Linked DNA regions of Homo sapiens. The protein of the gene in region 1 purifies or fractionates together with the protein of each later gene. This does not show direct contact. Each region holds a gene or a part of one and is shown in the gene's direction. Other genes may lie near its edges. The genes, in order: VASH1, NAA30 and ISOC2.

The links.
Region 2: the proteins of VASH1 (region 1) and NAA30 purify together in Homo sapiens (co-immunoprecipitation; one large-scale study listed by IntAct). This does not show direct contact.
Region 3: the proteins of VASH1 (region 1) and ISOC2 purify together in Homo sapiens (affinity purification with mass spectrometry; one large-scale study listed by BioGRID and IntAct). This does not show direct contact.

The regions. Positions count from the first base shown.
Region 1 is NC_000014.9:76,774,911-76,778,561, forward strand, and holds part of VASH1 (tubulinyl-Tyr carboxypeptidase 1), read left to right. Parts: intron 1-981; coding exon 982-1,363; intron 1,364-3,048; coding exon 3,049-3,161; intron 3,162-3,651. UniProt on the Homo sapiens protein: Tyrosine carboxypeptidase that removes the C-terminal tyrosine residue of alpha-tubulin, thereby regulating microtubule dynamics and function.
Region 2 is NC_000014.9:57,411,086-57,414,736, forward strand, and holds part of NAA30 (N-alpha-acetyltransferase 30), read left to right. Parts: 3' UTR 1-3,651. UniProt on the Homo sapiens protein: Catalytic subunit of the N-terminal acetyltransferase C (NatC) complex. Catalyzes acetylation of the N-terminal methionine residues of peptides beginning with Met-Leu-Ala and Met-Leu-Gly.
Region 3 is NC_000019.10:55,455,458-55,458,687, reverse strand, and holds part of ISOC2 (isochorismatase domain-containing protein 2), read left to right. Parts: intron 1-2,198; 5' UTR 2,199-2,201; coding exon 2,202-2,339; intron 2,340-2,842; coding exon 2,843-3,052; intron 3,053-3,230.

The DNA.
Region 1 (3,651 bases):
CCTCTGCAAAGGGGGATAGTGGCAGTGTGTAGAGTTGTTAGGACAATGGGCCGAGCCGGTGCCGTGAGACGCAGCACAGTGCTGGACATGGTGTCTGCTACACGCTTCTATCCATTCATGTCCTTCTACCCATTTGTTCGAGAACTTTCACTGAGTAACTGTTGTGTGCCCGGCTTGATGCTGGGCCCTGAAGAACATGACAGACAAGGGCCCTGTGCTTGGGAGGTTTGCATTCTAGTGGAGGAGACAAAATAAGCAAGTAAGGAAAAAGAAGCAGTAAACACTGGTCATGGTGAGAGTGCCGTGGAGGAGGTGGACGGTGGCGCAGGCTCAGCTTCAGTCCTGAGCAGCAGCCAACTTTGGCAGGCAGGGGAAAAGGCCGGTGTGAGAAACTCAGGTGGGAGGCCCCGGGGGCTGGAGAGGTGAGCAGGTGGGGCAGAGGTGTAGGAAGTGGGAGTGGGCCTGGGGCTGGCTGGGGGCACCTCCCAGGCCTCAGTAGTACACGTGATTGTATTTGAAGGGCCACAGGCAGGGTTGCATGTGGATATGGGGAGAGGACAGGGTGAGGGTAAGAGAAGAGTGAAGCCGCGTCTGTGGCCTGTGTGTGTGCCAAGGTGCGGGATGGAGGGCGAGGGAGTGAGGCAGGGGAGGGAAGGCTTCTCTTCCGTCCTTGGGCCACTGGGCTCTGGAAAGCCCTGCAGTGTGGCACCAGCCCTGCTGGACTTCAGAGCGGTGGCCACAAATCCCTGGAAGCCCCGTGCCTATTCGAGGTTCCCTTTATTGAGCTCCAGCTGGATACCAGGCTCAATGCTAGATGGCAGGAATACCAGGAGGAGACGCCAGGCGTATGGAGATGAGCAGGACTGGTGTCTGCACCCCAAGGCTGGCGGTGCGTGGACCCCGTGGCTCCCGGTCCCAGTCCCTCCCGGTGTGCTGGCCCCGTGCTTCTCCTGGCTCTTTCCTTAGCGGGGCACTGGCCAGTTACCTCACCAACAGCATGCCCACCCTGGAGCGCTTCCCCATCAGCTTCAAGACCTACTTCTCAGGGAACTACTTCCGCCACATCGTGCTGGGGGTGAACTTCGCGGGCCGCTACGGTGCGCTGGGCATGAGTCGGCGCGAGGACCTGATGTACAAGCCGCCCGCCTTCCGCACGCTCAGCGAGCTCGTGCTGGACTTCGAGGCCGCCTACGGCCGCTGCTGGCACGTGCTCAAGAAGGTGAAGCTGGGCCAGAGCGTGTCACACGACCCGCACAGCGTGGAGCAGATCGAGTGGAAGCACTCGGTGCTGGACGTGGAGCGCCTGGGCCGCGATGACTTCCGCAAGGAGCTGGAGCGCCACGCCCGCGACATGCGGCTCAAGGTCTGCCCGCCTTCCACGCCCTCGCCCCCTCCCTCGCCCCCTCCCCCGCCCCAGCAGAGGCGATGTGAGGATTGAGAGGACTGGGGAGCTTCTCAGGGGACTGGGGTGCTGGGACCTTGCTTAGTGGTCGATATTGTTCAGGTGGTCCCCTGGGGTGGGCAGACCAGGACGGCTGCGGAGGGAGGAGGTGGGTGGGCTGGGTTTGGATGGTGGTAGGTGTTGGGCACATGGCAAGGTCACTGGTGGAGAATCACGGCCTGTCTGGAGGGTGTGATCGGGTGCTGTGATGGGCAGCCTCCCCACTCCTCCTGTAACATATCCTGACTCTGCCCCCCAACCCTAGCAACCATTAAAGGACTAGGAGGTGGTCAGAAGAAAGGGAAGTCAGACCATGTGGAAGACAATGAGGGCAGTGTTCCTTCTTCCTCTTCCCACCCACACTTGAGCAGGAGGTGATAGGGAGTTGGGCTGGGGGCTGTTGTACCAAAAACAGCTGGGCTGAGCTGTTGAGCCCTAGAGCCTTTCAGCAGGCAGAATTCTGACATCTGCCTGGGTTCTCCTGGGGCTGCCAGGGCCCCCTGCTGGGTATCTCCATAGCTCAGTCACTGCTGCACTGTGACTGCCCCTCCAGGCAGCCTGGAGCCTCCGCCTCAACCACCGACCTCTGCACTCCCAAGTGCACTGCTTCTCTTGACAGCCCTGGGAGGCCAGCGGGCGGTAGGTGGTAGCTCCATTTTCAGGGTTGGAAGCCCAGAGTCTTGCTCACTGGCAGTGAGAGGCAGATCAGACTGGAGCTCAGCCTCCTGATGGGGTGATGGGGAACCCAGGTGTGTTGCAGGTGCCTGCAGGTGTCCTGGCAGGGGTTTGTAAGAGCTACGGCTGCCCTAGCCATTGCCAGCCCTAGGCCAAGATCTCCTGGGGTGACAGTGCCTTCCCCTAGGGCAGAGGCAGGCTGCAGCCAACCCTGCGTTAGAGAGGGGCTGCTCTCTTCTGCCCCTGAGCTGCCGCTCCCCACCTAGCTCTGGGTCCCCCAGCACCCTGGCTCTTGCTCCTCAGTTTGCTATTGTGTCTTTAAGGCATCAGATTGGATCTAGGGTGAGAGCCAACAGTTCCCTAGTGTTTAGAGCTGTGATGGATTCCCAGCCTATTCAGTGCTAAACACTCACCTGTGTTACTTGCCCCTCTCCAGCACTCCTGCGTTTTGAAAACTCAAGTCAAGCTGACGGTGCCATATAAAGGATGACTCTTTTGTTTTTCTCATTTTTTTCTTAAGCAGAGCTAAAGCTACCAGTCTGACTTCTCAATGGCTGGAGATACCCAGCATCACCCTTGGGGTGAGTGGGATCTCAGCCCCAAGTTCAGTGTGGGCTGCTCCCACAACTGGCACGTTTACCTGGCCTTTGTTGGGGACTTTTTGCAATATTATGGTATCTCAGTGACTTCCCCCACTTCCACTCTGCCTTCAGGAGCCCACAGGGATTGGACAGCCCCATGGAGGAACTCCTGCTCTGGCAGCTTTAGTGCCTGGGAAATAGGTTGGGAAAGATCCAGACAGGGAAGAGCCATGCTTGAGGTTCCCCGGGCCTTCCCCAGGGCAGCCTCCAGGGACCTGTGGCTCCTGGAAGGAGAGGTTGGGCTCCAGGGCAGTCCTGGAGTGATGCTGTTGCTTCCTCCTCTGCACCTAGATTGGCAAAGGGACGGGCCCTCCCTCTCCCACCAAGGACCGGAAGAAGGATGTTTCTTCCCCGCAGCGGGCCCAGTCCAGCCCCCACCGCAGGAACAGCCGCAGTGAAAGACGGTGAGAGAGGGACCACGCCTGGGTGGGTCCAAAGAGGGTTTTTTTCCTTTCCTCTCATCGTGTGGGTCCCTTTTTTTTTTTATCTCTCTCCCACCCTTCTCTCTTTTTCGCTCCCACCCAAGGGAGGTGACTTGGGATGGTGGGTTTAGAGGTTTGTGTATTGACATTTCCCACAGCAAGGCAGTTCTACTTCCCCAGAGAAACCAAACTCTGCTAGCCCACTAGTCTGAGCATGGGTTATGTGAGAGAAAAGGTAGAAAGGATGGGGCCCCTGCAAGGCAGTGAGCCACCCAGGAATGTCATGGGGGAGGGCGTGAATATTAGATGGCTTTGAACATAACTTTGCCCCCCACCCAAGAGTCTGGTTTTTGTCTGTATCCAGGTAGCAAGAACAAGCCATTGAAATACCAGCTCTCCTCCTCTGATTTCAGCTCCTACACATCACTCTGACTCTTGCTTTAAATATAATTGTCATTCAGGAGCCACCTCT
Region 2 (3,651 bases), about 19 Mb from region 1:
TGCTCTTTGCTCAGTATAGTGTTTTGAAAGTGAACATAGTAACAAATACTTTAAAAATAAAGATACACAATTTATATTTGAAAATAAAAACTTTCTGCTGGTGGGATTATTTATAGTTCTTTATTTTTAAAGAAAATGTTTTCCTTTTTATATTGCTCTTGAAAGTTTAATGAGCAGAATACAATACTGGTTATAATAAAAATATGGTAACCACACAGTACTCAGCCTTTCAATATGTTTTTGGTCAAACTTCATTTAGGCACTAGCATTTAGAAGAATACCAATCACAGTGATGCTTTTGTTATTTAATATGAAGGAAATGGAACTAAAACATTTATGTCATCAAATTTTATTTCACTTCTTTATATTTGACTTGCTGGTTGATACATAATGGTTGATGAACATATATTTGCTTAAATCACTAATAGGGATGGTTGTAAAGTAGATAGATCATTGGTTCAACCATTTTAGTGTTTTTGCCAGATTGTCAATGAAACCATCATACTGACCTTTTCCTCCAAAATTGCCAAATTGACTGAACTGGTTGGGTGTTTGTAAAGATGACGTTAACTGTGTGACTAAAAAGTCAGATGGTTGCCATATTGTTTGGAATATGTTGAATGTCAGTGTATGCCTTATGTCTTTAATTGGGTATGCAAAAAAATTTTTACTTAAGTAGATTAAAATTTTAACCTCTAGCATGAAAACCCAGCACCAACACTGAAAGACTCCATTCAGGTTGAAGTAGCCTCAAACAGTAATTTACTTTTTGATAATAGGCTGTTGTTTTTCTTAAATAAGCTTAAAACAATTCTATCTGAAATTGGTAGCATGGGTTCACTTGGCTACAACTGAGCAAAATAGATGCAACTTTCTTTTAATGGGGTGCTGCCTCTTTAGGACTGACTGTACTATCCACTGACACTGGTTTGGCAGTTGGTACTGCTGAACATTTTTATACATGCTACCATGAAGCTATATATGTTAGTATTGAAGAAGCTAACGGGTATACTATCATTTTTGATGTGTGGGCTGATTATAATTTCCTGTATTTCCTGTACATTGGGATGAAACTACTTTAGCAAAGTCCACAGATCAGAAACCAGACGGTAGTTTTTGAAGTTGAAACCAGCAAAATAAGAAAAAATAAAAAATCGATTTTAATATTTTCTGCCTCTTTCCCAAATTACCCTTCCCACTTGCTCGACAAATCTATGTAAAGCAGTTTGTTTTTTCATGTTTTAACTTTACCTTGCCCTGTGTTATGGTACTGGCTGACATGTCTAAGACTGGATGTGTATATTTATTATGGTGTCTAAAAATCATGAAGTTCATCACTTTTCAGGAGTATAGATAAAATCAAATTGGTAGTACATCAGAGTTACTTTTCAGTGCACCATGACATCACTAAAATGAGTGCTGTAATGTTACAGGGCTTTCAGGTTTGTAAAAACATAACCATAAATTATATTGACGTCAGATATGAGTTGAGTATCTATAAAATATCACGTGTATCTCAAAATATTGGACTGCTGTTTGACTGGATATTGCTGCATAATTTTCTTCTATTGTCCCATATCCTTTTGGAGAGAGATTTAATGGGATTTGAAATGTGCAAGCTGTCTAAATAAGATGCAGTCAAATAAAGTATGGTTAAGTTGTGTTTGCATTTTTCTTTTAGATACAGCTGTGTGCATTTTATGATTGGGTTGTTTTGCTTTTACCTACTAAGTAAAACAGCAACAAACAATATATTGTTTCCCGCTTCCTGCCTTTCATCTAAGAGTTACGGGGAAGAAGTATTACATAATTGTCATCACTGTTGTGTGTTCTGACAAAGTAAATTTGAAAATAACATGAACTTGATTTTTCTAAAAGTACTCAGTCAACTCATATGTCAGTTATCGGTACATTTTCCATGTGTTCAGTCAAAAGTTTATCTTTTTAGTCTGTTTCATAGCAGTTTATTTCTAAGACAGTTTTTATTTTAATTTACTTTTTTGTCTGTACACTGCCACTCTGTAATGTTCCCCCCACCCCATCCCACCCTTGGTAAGACACCAAAGTAAAATAGAGCAATATCCAAAGAGCTTTTTGCCCCTGTCTTGTGAGGAGCTTTAAATAGCTGTGAATACTTCTGTATGTCAAGATTTTCGGATTTTAGTGGAAGGATGAAATGATCTGTTTTAATCATTTAACTGCTAAATTACTTTTATCATGCATGCCAAATCTTTACATTATTCTTTAGAGTAATACTGTAAAAGTATCTGAGTTTGTTTTATTTGGGCCTTATGTGGAACTCGAAATACTTCATAAATTCACTCTAAGGTCTAAATAAGAACCAGAAGGTTGATACCATTTTTTCACACCAGTAAACACAGATCAGTATTAACCTGTAGCCCAGAGGTGTTAGATTTATTTTTTGAGACAGAGTCTCACTCTGTTGCCCAGGCTGGAGTGCGGTGGCACAATCTTGGCTCACTGCAACCTCTGCCCCCTGGGTTCAAGCAATTCTTGTGCCTTAGCCTCCTGAGTAGCTGGGACTACAGGTGCATGCCACCACGCCCAGCCAATTTCTTGTATTCTTAGTATGAGACAGGGTTTCACCATGTTGGCCAGGCTGGTCTCAAACTCCTGACCTCAAGTGATCTGCCCGCCTCGGCCTCCCAAAGTGTTGGAATTACAGGCGTGAGCCACCACGCCCAGCCTATGATATTCTTTTTATAAGCAACTTTTAAAAAGTTTTTTAAAAGATCTCATAAGCATATAGCACTGCTACACTTTAGATCACTACTGTCCAGTCACACTTTATATAAGGATAGATGTGTCCTTTTCACTCCCCAGTATGGTAGTTACTAGTCACATGTGTAGCTACTGAGCCCCTGAAGTGTGGGTGGGATGATTGAGCTGAATTTGTAATTTTAATCAAAGTTAGCCACATGTGGCTTGTGGCTACTGTATTGGACAGCAGAGCTTTAGATAAGCAGTAATAACAGGAAGGGAGTGTTTGTATAGGTTGAAAGATAAAATGGAAGGATCACAATTAGGCCAGATGTGGTGGCTCACGCCTATTATCCCAGCGTTTTGGGAGGCTGAGATGGTAGTTTGCAACCAGCCAGGACAGCATAGCAAGACTGTTTCTGAAAAATCTTTTAAAATAACACAACTAAAAATTACCTCTGAGCAAGAGTATAGCTGAACTGTTTATACTGACAATATATTTCATTAATACAGTGTTTGACCACTTTCCACCCCACCAACCACTGCCCTTGTTATGTAGCCTTTCTGAGAAAAGCAGCCCTTTCAGATTTTATTGTTGGAAGTTCCTTGGGTTGCAGAGATGCAGATTCAAGTGCCAAAAGTTGTTTCTGATGAGACTTACCTTTTTAGCCTTAAAATATTTGTATAGTTGGCTCTAATAATTTCTCATTTTTGATGAATTTGAAATCATTTCACTTCTAAATGAGATTGGTCATCTCATGAGTGGTCAAGTTGGAACATGGAGGTCTATCATGTTTTTAACCTCCAAGATCCACTTATGGGGATGAGGCCAAAGGCCAATGTTACTTCTAGAAGAACCAGATTAATTTTTCTGCCTTCCATCACCGCAGTGTATTACCTTTGACCCTCGCTGGTCATCTGGTAAGTGTA
Region 3 (3,230 bases), on another chromosome or scaffold:
GGCATGGTGGCACAAGCCTGTAATCCCAGCTACTTGGGAGACTGAGGCAGGAGAATCCTTGAACCTGGGAGGCAGAGCTTGCAGTGAGCCAAGATCGCGCCACTACACTCCAGCCTGGGTGACAGAGCAAGACTCCATCTCAAAAAAAAAAAAAAGAAAAGAAAATAGCAGCTTCTTGTTGAGTGCCCTGCCTCCCTCAGCTTCCCAGAACACCTTCTGTCTTGCCTCCAATGAGCCTCCAGGGTCTCCCATTTCCCTGGTGAATTAATGAATAAATGAGTTAAGTACAAACAAATTGTACACACAGACGGGGAGAGAGCTGCAGACAAAAGCCCAGCCCAAACCCTCACTTGTGCAGCAAACTCGGAGACCCAAAAGCACAAGCCTCCCAGGGACGTAGGCCAAGACGTGCTGATTCAGGGCCCCTGCGGTGTAGACGCTCTGACAGCGTAGACGCTCTGACCGAGTGGAAGTCAGGTGTGCCCTGTATGGCTGCAGGACTTAGGGCAGGTTAACGGGCCCTCTGGGTCGAGGTTTCCTCCCCTGCAAAAGAATTGCTGGCCAGGTGGCTTCACCAGCCTGTCCTTTTTTTCTTTCTCTTCTTTTCTTTCTTTTCTTTTTTTTTTTTAATTGTGGTAAAATGCACTTAACATAAAACTTACCCTTTCAGCCATTTGAAAATGCAGTGGAGTGGCATTCATAGTCATGCTGTTCTGCAGCCGCCACCACCAAGTCCCAGAGCATTTTCACCATCCCAAACTGAAAACTACACCCCCCAGCAGTCAACCTGAATTCCTCCCGGCCACAGCCCCTGGCAGCCAATCATCTGCTTTCTTTCTCTTTTTTTTTTTTTTTTGAGATGGAGTTTTGCTCTTATTGTCCAGGCTGGACTGGCAGTGGTGCTATCTCTGCTCACTGCAACCTCCGCCTCCCAGGTTCAAGTGATTCTCCTGCCTCAGCCTCCCAAGTAGCTGGGACAACAGGTGCGTGCCACCGTGCCTGGCTGATTTTTGGTATTTTTAGTAGATATGGGGTTTCACCATGTTGGCCAGGCTGGTCTCAAACCCCTGGCCTCAGATGATCCGCCCGCCTCGGCCTCCCAAAGTCCTGGGATTACAGGCGTGTGCCACCAAGCCCAGTCTCTTTTTTTTTTGAGACAGAGTCTTGCTCAGTCACCCAGGCTGGAGTGCAGTGGTGTGATCTCGGCTCACTACAACCTCTGCCTCCTGGGCTTCAAGCGATTCTCCTGCCTCAGCCTCCCGAGCAGCTGGGTTACAGGCACCCGCCACTGCCTGGCTAATTTTTGTATTTTTAGTAGAGACAGGGTTTCGCCATGTTAGCCAGGCTGGTCTTGAACTGACCTCAGCTGATCCGCCCACCTCAGCCTCCCAAAGTGCTGGGATTATAGGCGTGAGCCACTGCGCCCGGCCCCATCTGCTTTCTGTCTGTGGATTTGCCTGTTCTGGGCATTTCAGGAAAACGGGATCGCACGCTCCGTGGTCTTTGTGTTGAGATCTATCCAGGTTGTGGCCTGTGCAGGGTCCCCCTTCTTTCCTATGGCTGAAGAATATGGCCTCAGTTTCCTCTTGGAGCAGGGTGAGGATCAGGGTGGACCCTTCATTCAGGAGGCCCTGGGGAGTGGGCTGGCCCAACACAGGAGGACGCCCAGCAGAGCCTCCGTTTTGGGGCTGATGGTAACCAGGGCTGACAGTAACCGGGGCTGATGTAACCGGGATCTGATAGTAACCGGGGCTGATGGTGACCAGGGCGGATGGTGACTGGGGTGGATGGTAACCAGGGCAGATGGTAACTGAGGCTGATGGTAACCGGGACTGATAGTAACTGGGGTGGATGGTAACCGGGGCGGATGGTAACCGGGATCATGAAGCACTCCTTGACGTTGTGCACAGTCCTCAGCAAGGAGAACACAGGGACCAGGAGAGGGACACCCGGAGCCACGTGTGGATGTGGCCCAGAAGGCTTCCCAAGGAAGTCACCTCCCTGCCGAATAGGACAGAAATAAGAAAGAAGCCCATTCTAGGCCCGGGGAACAGCAGACACAGAGACCTTGAGGTGGGAAGAAGGTTGGCAAGGTGCCCCGGGCCCTGCCAGGCTCTGAGTGTGAGGACCTGGACGCCAGCTGGAGACACTGAGAGGAGCCCTCGGGCCTGACCCACCGTCCCTCTGCCCACCCCCAGAAAATGGCGGCTGCCAGGCCCAGCCTGGGCCGAGTCCTCCCAGGATCCTCTGTCCTGTTCCTGTGTGACATGCAGGAGAAGTTCCGCCACAACATCGCCTACTTCCCACAGATCGTCTCAGTGGCTGCCCGCATGCTCAAGGTATGACCTCAGCCCCCCACCCTCAGACCCAGGATCCAGGCTCAGCCCTCCACCCTCAGACCCAGGATCCAGGCTCAGCCCTCCACCCTCAGACCCAGGATCCAGGCTCAGCCCTCCACCCTCAGACCCAGGATCCAGGCTCAGCCCTCCACCCTCAGATCCAGGATCCAGGCTCAGCCCTCCACCCTCAGACCCAGGATCCAGGCTCAGCCCTCCACCCTCAGACCCAGGCGTCCAGGCCCAACTCCTCTTCCTTCAGACCCAGGGATCCAGGCCCACTTCCTCTTCCCTCAGACGCAGGAGTCCAGGCCCAGCTCCTCCTCCCTCAGACTCAGGAGTCCAGGCATAGCCCCTCCTCCCTCACACCCAGGAGTCCAGACCCCCAGCCCCTCCTCCCTCAGACCCAGGAGTCCAGGCCCAGCCCCTCCTCCCTCAGACCCAGGAGTCCAGGCCCAGCCCCTCCTCCCTCAGACCCTGACCTTTCTTCCCCATCACTGGCACAGGTGGCCCGGCTGCTTGAGGTGCCAGTCATGCTGACGGAGCAGTACCCACAAGGCCTGGGCCCCACGGTGCCCGAGCTGGGGACTGAGGGCCTTCGGCCGCTGGCCAAGACCTGCTTCAGCATGGTGCCTGCCCTGCAGCAGGAGCTGGACAGTCGGCCCCAGCTGCGCTCTGTGCTGCTCTGTGGCATTGAGGCACAGGCCTGCATCTTGGTGAGATGCTGACTGACCCCAGGGGTCCCTCGTTCTAACCTGGGACCCCCATCCTAAATAGAACCTCCTTCCCTGACCAGAAACCTCCACTTCCCTGCAGGACCCCCATCCTGACCTGGGCCCTCTCTCCTCACCTGTGGGCCCCATCCTATCTTGGATCCCCTCCTGACCTGGGGGC